Homo sapiens: one gene and its partners. The protein of the gene in region 1 purifies or fractionates together with the protein of each later gene. This does not show direct contact. Each region holds a gene or a part of one and is shown in the gene's direction. Other genes may lie near its edges.

Region 1 (3,652 bases):
AGATCTAGAAAGACAGTGATAGAAAGCTTTCGTTTTGAAAGATTGAGAATAAAAGCTTCAGTGGAAGTGCCCAGTTGTGAGTATCTTTCCTATTTGAAAAGAGATTTTTCTCTTTATAAAAGAAGAATGTGAAGTAATAGCATGGGTTAAGTTTGGGCCTCTTGAATAGTTGGTTCATGAAACTAGATAATGGTATTAGGAGTGGGAGTAGGTATTTTCAAGTACCTATCACTGAATTAGTTAACCAGCAATTTGTAGTCTCTGTAGTCCTTGTGTTAACCCTATGCCTAGCACTGTTGATTCAAAGAACGTTCTCTATATATGTGAAACTACAGGGAATTTCTTGCCTTTGAGAGCACCGCCTGCTTTTAAAAAGGTATGAGAGAAAATATTTATTTAAGCCTATACAAAACTATCAGGCATCTTAAGTCTTGACATTTCCCAAGGTTCTTAGAGTTGCTATGGTTGGAAAAAAATGTAATTTCAGTTTTACCCTGTAATTCTGTACCAAATTTTCTTTTTAGACTGTTCTATGACATTGTCATAATGTGTAACATTTTTGACAAAAAATGTGACTCCAACGAGTCGTAATAAATACTGCAATTAGTTTAAGACTTTGAATAATACTTTTCTGAGGAACTTTAAGTATATTTCTCTCTTCATTTTTCTGGATAATGATGAGAACATGGATTACATGAATTACAATATTTTAAGTAGCCCCATGTATAAGAATTTTTCTATTATCAGGTATTTGCTCATTGGAAGAAACATTTTAAAGGGTTTCACAGGATTTTTAGAAGAAAATACTTTTTAATAAGAAGTTGTGATTTATTTCCAAAGAAATTGAATTATTTGTTATAGCAAGTTTCTCACATGAGATGATATTGTATCTATATTAAGCAGGGAATCCCTGCAGGTAATTTAAAATTCTAGTGGATGTTAGTTTTTCAGCTTTGATATTTATTTTGGGCCTATTAATCAGAATTTTACAGTATAATAGATTTTGTAATATTTTTGGTGATGAGGATTTTACAGTATAACAATTTTTGTAATATTTCTTGTGATGGTAGGCTTTGTTGGGTGGTAAACTTTCTAGCACTAAGAAAGCAGCTCATAATAATATACTTTTAGTTTGTCTTGGGGTGTAGCTTTTTTTCCCTTTAGTTTTTATCTGTCACAAGTGTCACAGGCAGATCATCTTGAGATGTACTAGTGGCTATTGTGATTTTATTAACATTGTAATCTTTCCATTAAATACAACTTCTGGATTTGACTTTTTAGGTCTTTTGATGTACCTGGATTTCTTAACATTATTAAAACATTTAAATTCTTCTTCTAGAAGTCACTTGTTCGAACCCTTATGAACCTCATTTGAGTTCTAGATACTGCACTGGCTAGGCAAAGAAGAGTAAGAGTCTCTCTTGAGAGACTGATGATAGAGCAGCCACTGTTGATACTTTATTAGCTAGCACTTTATGCTTTATCAGTATACCTATTTTCATTTCTTATTAATATTTTTCCACATTAGTATTCATTTCCCCTTTGATAGCCTAAATATTGAAATTGGTTTACTGATTAAATCACTTTTGAAACAGTTTTTTTCCTTAAAGTGTTAAGGCTTGTTTACTAAGTTTCTGAAATTGTGTCAGTATATGATGTGTATTCTCACTTTGGTTAGCATTCATTTTCATTTCTGTTAATGTTAATTCTTGTAAAACTCCCTCAAAAAAATCAAACTAGTTGGAATGGTTTGAGAGAGGGACTTGGATTTTTCTTTTGTTTATTTTTGTTGAACTGATGAGTAAATGAAGAGTAGAATGTACAGTGAAGTTTGAAGAAAGCCAATTTTTCAAACATTACTGTCCCCCTGAACTGTGCCTTTTAATTATGATAGGAGATTGTCTTGTTCCTCCTACTAAAATATGATTATCTAGAAGAACTTTTCTAAGTGGTATACTTGATTTAAAGTATAGAAGATTTTAGTTGCTATGATAGAGAGGGGGACTTGATGTTCACTGTGACAATCTTTCATAGCCCAGGGTAAAATAGTGCATTATCAGAGCCTGGCATTGTAATTAGTTGTACATGTGTGGAAATACTGACCTATCAACTTGGAATAATTCTTCACTTTTTTTTTTTTTTTTTTGAGACAGAGTCACAGTCTGTCGCCCAGGCTGGAGTGCAGTGGCGCAATCTCAGCTCACTGCAACCTCTGCCTCCTGGGGTCAAGCGATTCTCCTGCCTTAGCCTCCTGAGTAACTGGGATTACAGGTGCGCACTGCCACACCTGGCTAATTGTATTTTTAGTAGAGACAGGGTTTCACCATGTTGGTCAGGCTGATCTTGAACTCCTGACCTCGTGATCCGCCCGTCTGGGCCTGCCACAGTGCTGGGATTACAGGCGTGAGCCACCGCGCCCGGCCATTTCTTAACTTTTAAAACACCAATAAAGCATTCTGGCTAGATATAAATACCTGTCCTAAGATGAGGCATTTTAGAGTCTTGAAGCATCCCTTATATACATTTCTGGATGTAACATGAAGAGGTGTTACAATTTTTTTTTATAGCTAGTCATTGCTGTTTCAGGGGTCTCATTAGATGAGAGTTATGCTTCATTTTGGTTATTGCCTTTTTCTTTTTTTGAGATGGAGTCTCACTCTGTCGCCCAGGTTGGAGTGCAGTGGCGCAGTCTCCGCTCACTGCAACCTCTGCCTTCTGGGTTCAAGTGATTCTCCTGCCTCAGCCTCCCGAGTAGCTGGGACCACAGGTGCCCACCATCATACCCGGCTACTTTTTTGTATTTTTAGTAGAGATGAGGTTTCACCATGTTAGCCAGGATGGTCTTGATCTCCTGACCTCGTTGATCCGACCACCACAGCCTCCCAAAGTGCTGGGATTACAGGCGTGAGCCACTGCGCCCGACCAGTTATTGCCTTCTTGACAATCCCATTTTTTGAAGTTTCAGTGTATGAAAGTATAAATTATGCATAGTACTGATGTCTATTCTAACTCCTGTTTTCTAAAAATTAACTTTCCTCGTTGTGATATTTATTTATTTTTGAGACAAGAGTCTTACTCTGTCACCCAGGCTGGAGTGCAGTGGCACGATCTCGGCTCACTGCAATCTGCCTCCTGGGTTCAAGCGATTCTCCTGCCTTAGCCTTCTGAGTAGCGGGGATTACAGGCGTGCGCCGCCACACCCAGCTAATTTTTGTATTTTTAGTAGAGACAGGGTTTTGCCATGTTGGCCAAGCTGGTCTTGAACTCCTGACCTCAGGTGATCTGCCCACCTCTGTCTCCCAAAGTGCTGGGATTACAGGCATGAGCCACCGCGCCCAGCCCATTGTGATTTATTTTAACATTAAATGCTAATAGAATTTTGATTAAGTGTAGTAATGTACTACTGGAGAGGGTAGTAGATGTTAAGAACTTGGGCCCTGAGGTCAAACCTGGCTCTGCCATGTTCAAGCCGTGTGACATTGCAGAAGACACTGAAGCAGAGCCTCATTTTTCTCATCTCAGGAAATGTGCACATGATGATAGTAGCATATGCCTCTTAGGGTTGTGAGAATTAAGAGCATTTACTGGCCAAGTGATGGAAATGGTCTCAAGAAGGCAACCTCAAATGGGACTTTTACTCACCAGCAAGTTT
Region 2 (3,752 bases), on another chromosome or scaffold:
AAGGGGAAGCATTTCAGATGGAACAGCCATCCAGCCCTCAGAAAGCTTATAGTCTGGTGGAGTTAAGTGTATGCAGATCATTATAACTGAATTCCTGAAGGTAGAGACTAGATCTTTATCAATCAATGACTTTTATTGGATGCCAGACCCTATTAGGGTCTTGGATAAACAAAGATAAAAAGGACCCACTTCCTGCCATTAAAGACCTCGCAGTGTTTAAGGAAAACTACAAACTGGCAATCAAAGGGTGACTAATGCAAAGTTAGGGATAAAGCTAGAGACCAATAGGGAGCAAAGGGAGCATAGTGGGGGGTGGGGAGGGGGCTGGAAGCAGGAAAGGCTTTCAGAGAAGATGATGTTTGAATGGAATGTTATAAGTTAATTCAGGATTAGGCAGGAGAAAAAGTATTTAGAAAAAAAAATCCAGGAGAAGGAGATAACAAGCAAAGGCTAGGAAGCAAGAATTTAGTGTGTGTAGATAGCAATGCGTGGGACATAGAGTCGTCAGATGAGGCTGGAGATAAATTGAAGTCACACTCTGTGAAAGATCTTCATCCATTCTGAAAGCTGATCATACGAATTGGGTCATTCTTGTCATATCCAACTAAGACAGAATTGAAAAGCCAGGGGAACAAATACTCAGGGCATATAACATTGCTCCAAAAAAGTAATTTTTTGCAAGCCTGGCTGCTAAAACTGCCTGCTGTAACCTAAAACCAGTTTTATCTAATAGCTACTGAAACAGCCTGCTACAATTCTGAGTTTTATCCACCACTATCACTTACCAATCAAAGCTTGCCAGCTCCCCAAGAAGCTGATAAACCCCCACTTTACTAGTGCCTGTAAACTTCCTTGAAGAGCAATATGTAACATTTCTGTTTTATAAAAATCTCCAAACCTTCTCTTTGTTCTTCTGACATACCAAAGACAACCTGGTCTGTGTGTAAGCCCTGAATTGCAATTCTTGATTGCCAAATAAAATATTTAAACTTTAGAGATTCATCTCTATATGTTGACTTTGACACCATCAATCCACCTGTGCATTAATTTATTAAATAAATATCTATAGAGCACTAGGTACCAGGTACTTTCTAGCCTTGGAACCTTTGCACTTACCATCCCTCTGGCTGGAACAGCATTCCCTAAATCTTGTCTGGTCTCAGCTCAACTATTACCCCCTGAGAAAGGCCTTCCTTCATCCCCTTATTTAAAATAGCCCACACGTGGTCACTTTCCATTGCATTATCCTGTTTTGTTTTCCTTACAGCACTAATCACATGAAATGAGAGTCTTCGTTTGCTTATCAGTTAATTGCCTGTGGGGACCCCACTAGGACATAATCTCCCTGATAGCGGGGCCAGCCTCCTTCCCTGCGTCATCCACGGCGTTCTAGCAACTCAGGGAGCCCAGAGCATGCTGCCGCCCCGCGTGCAAGGGAGCCTAAGTTCCAAACCGAGCACGCGCAGAGGGCGGGACGCTCCGGGCCTCCAGGTCTCGCAGGCCCCGCCCCCTCGCCGCGGGTTCGCTGTTGGGCGGAGATATTCGCCGCCGGCGCTTGCGCCCGGAAGGTGTGCCGCACCACACGGGGGAGGAAGGAAGGAGCTCCCAACTCGCCGGCCTGGCCACGGGATGGCCCCCAAATTCCCAGACTCTGTGGAGGAGCTCCGCGCCGCCGGCAATGAGAGTTTCCGCAACGGCCAGTACGCCGAGGCCTCCGCGCTCTACGGCCGCGCGCTGCGGGTGCTGCAGGCGCAAGGTACGACCCCGGCCCCCATCTCACCTCCGGGCCTGCTCCTCCAACTCCCGCAACCACCGCCCGGGCCTCGCGCGGCGGCCAGCAGTCCTGCCCGGCCCTCCCACCCTTCCAGCCCCTTCCGACTCCGGCATCCTACCAGAAACTTCCTCGGCCCTTTCTTTCCACCTGCTTGTTAACTGCCCTGTTGGCCCCCATCCTAAGTTATTTAGGCCTCGTTCTGAGCCCTGAGAAGAAAGCTAAACCCTCCTCCCCCGCAGCAATTCATTTTTCAGTTAGTATTTGTTGAGTAGCTGTTATATACCGCCTGTGTAACAAGACACAAAAAGTCCCTTCTCTCAAGGACAGCGCATTCTTGTGGGGGCGGTGGGGAGGACGTGAGTCTTAAGCGAGTCAGTAAGTAAACGAGACCTGTGGGATAATCAGGGTTAGGAAGAAGACAAATAGGGTGATGTGATAGAGTTGACTGGAGTGGGAGATCAAGGGCAACATCTGTAAAGAAGTGATATTTGAGGTGATGTCTAAATGATGAGAAGCCAAGCGCACAAGGTTTTCGGTCCTGAAGTGAACTGCAATGAGAAAGGCCCCCCCTCCAAGACGATATAAACATGGTGTGTTTCAGGGGTCAAAGCATAGTGAGCCAGGGCAGGGAATAGGAAGACATGAGGTCAGTTAGGAAGGCAGACCCTTATTTATTGTGGAGGTGTTGTAAACTCTGCTAAGGAGTTCGGATTTCATGCCAAACTGGAAGCTTGGCATGAAAGCTGCTGGATGGGAAGCTACTGGAGAGTTTGAAACAGAAGAATAGCATATTCTTACCAGTTCTCCCAGCGTCCAGCTTTCGTCAGCATACCGCAGACCTTTGCCCAAAGCCCCTTCTCCAGGGTGACTTAATCAGAAACCCTCATTGGTTAAAGCCTTGACTTTTGAAAGGAGCCTTGGATCCTGGTTTCTGTGAGTCACCGTTCAGTACCTATTTCCCTTTGCCGCCTTCCTTTTTTTCCTTTTCTTGGCTAGCATCTCTTGAGTGATTTACCATGTGCTAGACATTTTAGACACGATCTCCTTTGATCTTTATTATGGCCCTGTGGATAAAATGCTTAGAAAGGAGGAGTCCAAGAGAGTTAAATTGGCTCCCTCGGGGTTACATAGTGAAGACATGGAAGAGCCACGATTTGAATATGGATCTGTTTGACTTTGATGCTAAGTCCAAATTTTTAATCATTTTGCTAGACCTCTCCTCACATCCTCTCCAGATTTCATTCTTTTTTTTTTTTTTTTTGTCTGCACTTTTTGCAGTTTCAAGCCACTCCTTTGCCCCCTTCTTTGTTCTAGAAAACTCTCCTTTAGGCCCACTTCCTCATGGCAGCCTTACTTGATGAAGTTGCTGAAGAAGCTGAGGTATTGATGTTGCTGCCATTTTCATTCATCTCACCCCAGCTGGTCTGGAAAAGCTTGTACATTTGTATGGGTTAATTCTGGGTCCATAGAAAAGCTAGCCTGGTATCTAGATTTAGCAAGGACCGGAGTTTGGTTCTGCTGCTGCTACAGATTTCCTAGGTAATTTTGGGCAAGTCTCTTGATTTATCTGATCAGTCTTCTTGATCACGAAGAGAGCTCAGGGAACAGGCTAACACAATGAACCCTTCCAGCAAGTCTATGAAGTGATATCCTCATGTGGTAGGTGGGCACGCATGATCAGAGGGATGGAGTGACTTGTCCGGATCGCAGGGTTGATGCCCTTTCCACCGCACCACTGCTGTTTCTGAGCAACCGTACTCTGGTGACTCAAGATGGATTACAGGTTTTGGGTACTTAGCTCCTTAAGGGCAAGGATGTATTTTACTAGTCTTTGTACTTTCCGTCTCTGGGCCTGGCAAAACAAGAGGGGAAAACGCTTGTTATTGTTGGTATTGAATGAAAGATATCAAATATCAACATGGCAACAGGATACTGAGTGAAAAAAGTAAGTTGCAGAAGGATAGGCAATATGATGCCT
Region 3 (3,652 bases), on another chromosome or scaffold:
GCTTCCAAAAGATTAAAAACCACTGGTCTAGACAGAAGTTAGAATGTTCTTTCAACTACATAACTTCTCCATTAAATAAAGTGGAGTGGTGGCAAGATTTTGACGATTGGTTATTATGACCACCTCTCTTACACTTAGAGTCTTTTTTTCCCCCAAATTGAAAGTCATTTACATTAGAACCTGGGGATTTCAGCGGAATATGGATTAACTAGTGAGTAACTTTGGAACATGTGAAGCTATTCTGTGAAGTTAGGTTTGAGTGAAATGACAAAACAGGGTGCTTTGGATAGAAGGTAAAGAATGGAGGGAGAAGAGGCAGTGGCTGTGAAGAATATGAAGAGGTTAGTATTCTCCCCCAGTTTGGCAGAGGCTGGCCATCTGTGAACTGCCCATGCTTTCTAGAATGTCGGAGTTTTGGAGTGTGATGATGCGTCTGTATATCATATCTTTCTAGTCTTCCATTGTGCTTTCATTTGTTAGTCTCCTCTTGTTTTGCCATTTTTCTACTCCCTCACATGTGCTTTTGCCCTTCTTAAAAATATTCTTCGTCTGTAATCTGAGCACTCTGGGAGGCCGAGAGACCAGCCTGACCAATATGGTGAAAATCCATCTCTATTAAAAATACAAAAATGAGCCGGGCGTGGTGGCAGCGCCTGTAGTCCCACCTACTCGGTAGGCTGAGACAGGAGAATTGCTTGAACCCTGGAGGCAGAGGTTGTGGTGAGCAGAGATTGCACCACTGCACTCCAGCCTGTGTGACAGAGCGAGACTCTGTCTCCAAAAAAGAAAAAAAGAAAAAAATATATAATTTTTTCTCTAGTTTTTCTTTTTCCAGATGGCTTCTGTTTAGTTTTTCTATGTTCTGTCAAGTCGGTTTCTTATTCTGCAGCTGATTCCTACTTCTCAAAGTCTACTTGACAGCTCTTATTTTTATTTATATTTTTTTTAGAATAGGGTCTTGCTGTGTTGCTCATCAAATTTTTGGGCATAAATGATCCTCCTACCTCTGTTTCCTGAGTACTTAGGACTACAGGCAGGCACCTTTGACAGCTGTTAGTTGTTTTTTCTGCCCTTTACATCTATACTTCATACTTCTGAGTAACACACATATATACTTTTGTTATTTTTAATTCCCTTTCTCCCATTTTAGACATTTTCTTTTCTTTTTTTTTTTTTTTTGAGATGGAGTCTCGCTCTATCGTCCAGGCTGGAGTGCAGTGGCGCGATCTCGGCTCACTGCAAACTCTGCCTCCCGGGTTCACACCATTCTCCTGCCCCAGCCTGTAGCTGGGACTACGGGCACCCGCCACAACACCCGGCTAATTTTTTAGTGTTTTTAGTAGAGACGGGGTTTCACCGTGTTAGCCAGGATAGTCTCGATCTCCTGACCTCATGATCCGCCTGCCTCAGCCTCCCAAAGTGCCGGGATTACAGGCGTGAGCCACCGCGCCGGGCCCCATTTTAGACATTCTGTACTGGCTATTATGCTCCTCCAAAACTGTCCTCAGACACTTTGGTTTGCCCCTCATTCTTTCAGTACTGTTATTGCAGTTTTTGTTTAAATGAATATTTAACATTTATATAAATATAAGGTAAATATTTTGCATTTGAATTGCCCTTGTTGTGCAGTTTTGTTTTTCCTGGACTGAATAATTGCTTTATTTTTTGGTTTGCTTGTATGTTGTGTTACTACTTGCTTACTTAAACTCAGCAACTTAAACCCTCAAATGTGGTCAAACTGGTCACATAATCCGTTCAATTTCAGCTTAAAACATTGATTGATTGATTGATTGTCTACCTGGAATACCCTTACTAACCGACTTCTCCAACCTGGATTGGGTTTTCTTCCTCTTTGCTACACAGCTGTGCTCTTGGGACTTCCCTTTATCACCAGTTTGAGAATTCCCTTCATCTTTTTTCTGAGTTAGACCCTTTGTTTCTTGTATCTCATGTCATCTTCATTTACTTTCTTTGTTTTGGTGTAGCATAGTCTCACTTGCTTTGAGGAAAAGTGGATGAGAGGTTTTTTTGTTTGTTTTTGTTTTGGGACAGAGTCTTGCTCTGTTGCCCAGGCTGGAGTGCAGTGGCATGGTCTCAGCTCACCACAACCTCCGCCTCCCGGGTTCAAGTGATTCTCCTGCCTCAGCCTCCTGAGTAGTGGGATTACAGGTGTGCGCCACCATGCCCGGCTAATTTTTTCTATTTTTAGTAGAGATGGGATTTCACCATACTGGTCAGGCTGGTCTGGAAACTAATGGTATGTCTTTAAAATGTCTTTACTTAATTTAGTTGATCATTTGGTTATCGAATTCTGAGTTTGAAATAATTTTTTTCGCAATTTTGAAAGCATTGCTCCATTTTCTAGAAGTTCTGTTGTTAGGAGTCTGATGAGATTCTTGTTCTTGGTAACAAAGGTTTTCTGAAAGTGTCCTTTCAATTGGGAAACTCATTTCTTTCAGTTCTGTAGCATTTCTTGTATTATTTCTTTGACCATTTCTTACCCTTTTTTTTAATGATGTTTACCTGAAAGCTGGAGTTTCTCTAATTTTTCTCTTATTCTCCTCTTTTGTTTGTTCTGCCTTTTGAGAGATTTCCTTACCCTTATGTTCCAGGGGAAGAAGATTGGGGAACTCATGGTTCAGTATCTAGACTTTTCCTCATTGTCCTGTATAATCACGGCCTTCACCCTTGTTGGGACTCCACAGATTTGGAGCTGATCAGATGGGTTTGTTGAGAACAGCAGCTTTTTTGGAGGATTTTAGGGGGAGGGAGATTCATTTGACTGTGCAAGATGGGTGACAGAGCGAGACTCCGTTTGAATTTAAAAAAAAAGAGAAATTCAGAACTGCATAATGAAAAAGTAGGCCACAAATGTTAAGTTTTGGACAATTACAATTACATCTCTATCTTACTGTGCAAGATAGCGATGATGTGGCATCTCTTAGGGTCTTACTGTTCCTGTTTTCAGCCCTGCATCAGTTCTTGATATTTGGCAGCTTAAGTGAATTCAGGTATTTGCTTATAGTGACATCTGCTGTCATGCAAAGAAGTACTGCTTGAATCAGATATTGTCCTGTTTACATAACATGGGCTGTGCTCCTTCCTAGCTATATATCTTTAAACAAGGCATTTGCCTGCTTGAGCTTCAGTTCCCTTGTAAAGTGAGCAGGTTAGAGGCAAAAGATCATACAGAAGAATAATTTGTAAAGTTGTTTAATTATCTTAAGATTGTCTACTTTAATAACATAGTTGGAAGCAAAGAAGGTAATGGAATTATTTTTCTATTATGTTTTGGCATTGTACCTTGAATCTATTTCTTCATTTTGAAAAGGGGGAACTGGCCGGGCTCCGTGGCTGACGCCTGTAATCCCAGCACCTTGGGAGGCGGAGGAAGTCAGATTACAAGGTCGAGAGAGCGACACCATCTGGCCAACATGGTGAAACCCCATCTCTACTGAAAATACAAAAATTAGCTGGGCATGGTGGTGTGCGCCTGTAGTCCCAGCTTGTACCTGGGAGGCAGAGGTTGCAGTGAGCTGAGATCGAGCCACCGCACTCCAGCCTGGTGACAGAGCAAGACTCCATCTCAAAAAAAAAAAGGAAGGGGGGAACAAGCCTTGTTCTTTTACGTGCTGTCCTGACTGTTGTGTAT

Evidence for each region.
Region 2: the proteins of AKIRIN2 (region 1) and TOMM34 purify together in Homo sapiens (affinity purification with mass spectrometry; 2 studies listed by BioGRID and IntAct, with this or other methods). This does not show direct contact.
Region 3: the proteins of AKIRIN2 (region 1) and RGPD3 purify together in Homo sapiens (affinity purification with mass spectrometry; 2 studies listed by BioGRID and IntAct, with this or other methods). This does not show direct contact.

What each region holds. Positions count from the first base shown.
Region 1 is NC_000006.12:87,692,219-87,695,870, reverse strand, and holds part of AKIRIN2 (akirin-2), read left to right. Parts: intron 1-3,652. UniProt on the Homo sapiens protein: Molecular adapter that acts as a bridge between a variety of multiprotein complexes, and which is involved in embryonic development, immunity, myogenesis and brain development.
Region 2 is NC_000020.11:44,958,211-44,961,962, reverse strand, and holds the start of TOMM34 (mitochondrial import receptor subunit TOM34), read left to right. Parts: upstream 1-1,565; 5' UTR 1,566-1,629; coding exon 1,630-1,756; intron 1,757-2,425; exon of another isoform or gene 2,426-3,626; intron 3,627-3,655; exon of another isoform or gene 3,656-3,670; coding exon of another isoform or gene 3,671-3,719; intron 3,720-3,752. UniProt on the Homo sapiens protein: Plays a role in the import of cytosolically synthesized preproteins into mitochondria. Binds the mature portion of precursor proteins. Interacts with cellular components, and possesses weak ATPase activity.
Region 3 is NC_000002.12:106,461,868-106,465,519, reverse strand, and holds part of RGPD3 (ranBP2-like and GRIP domain-containing protein 3), read left to right. Parts: intron 1-3,652.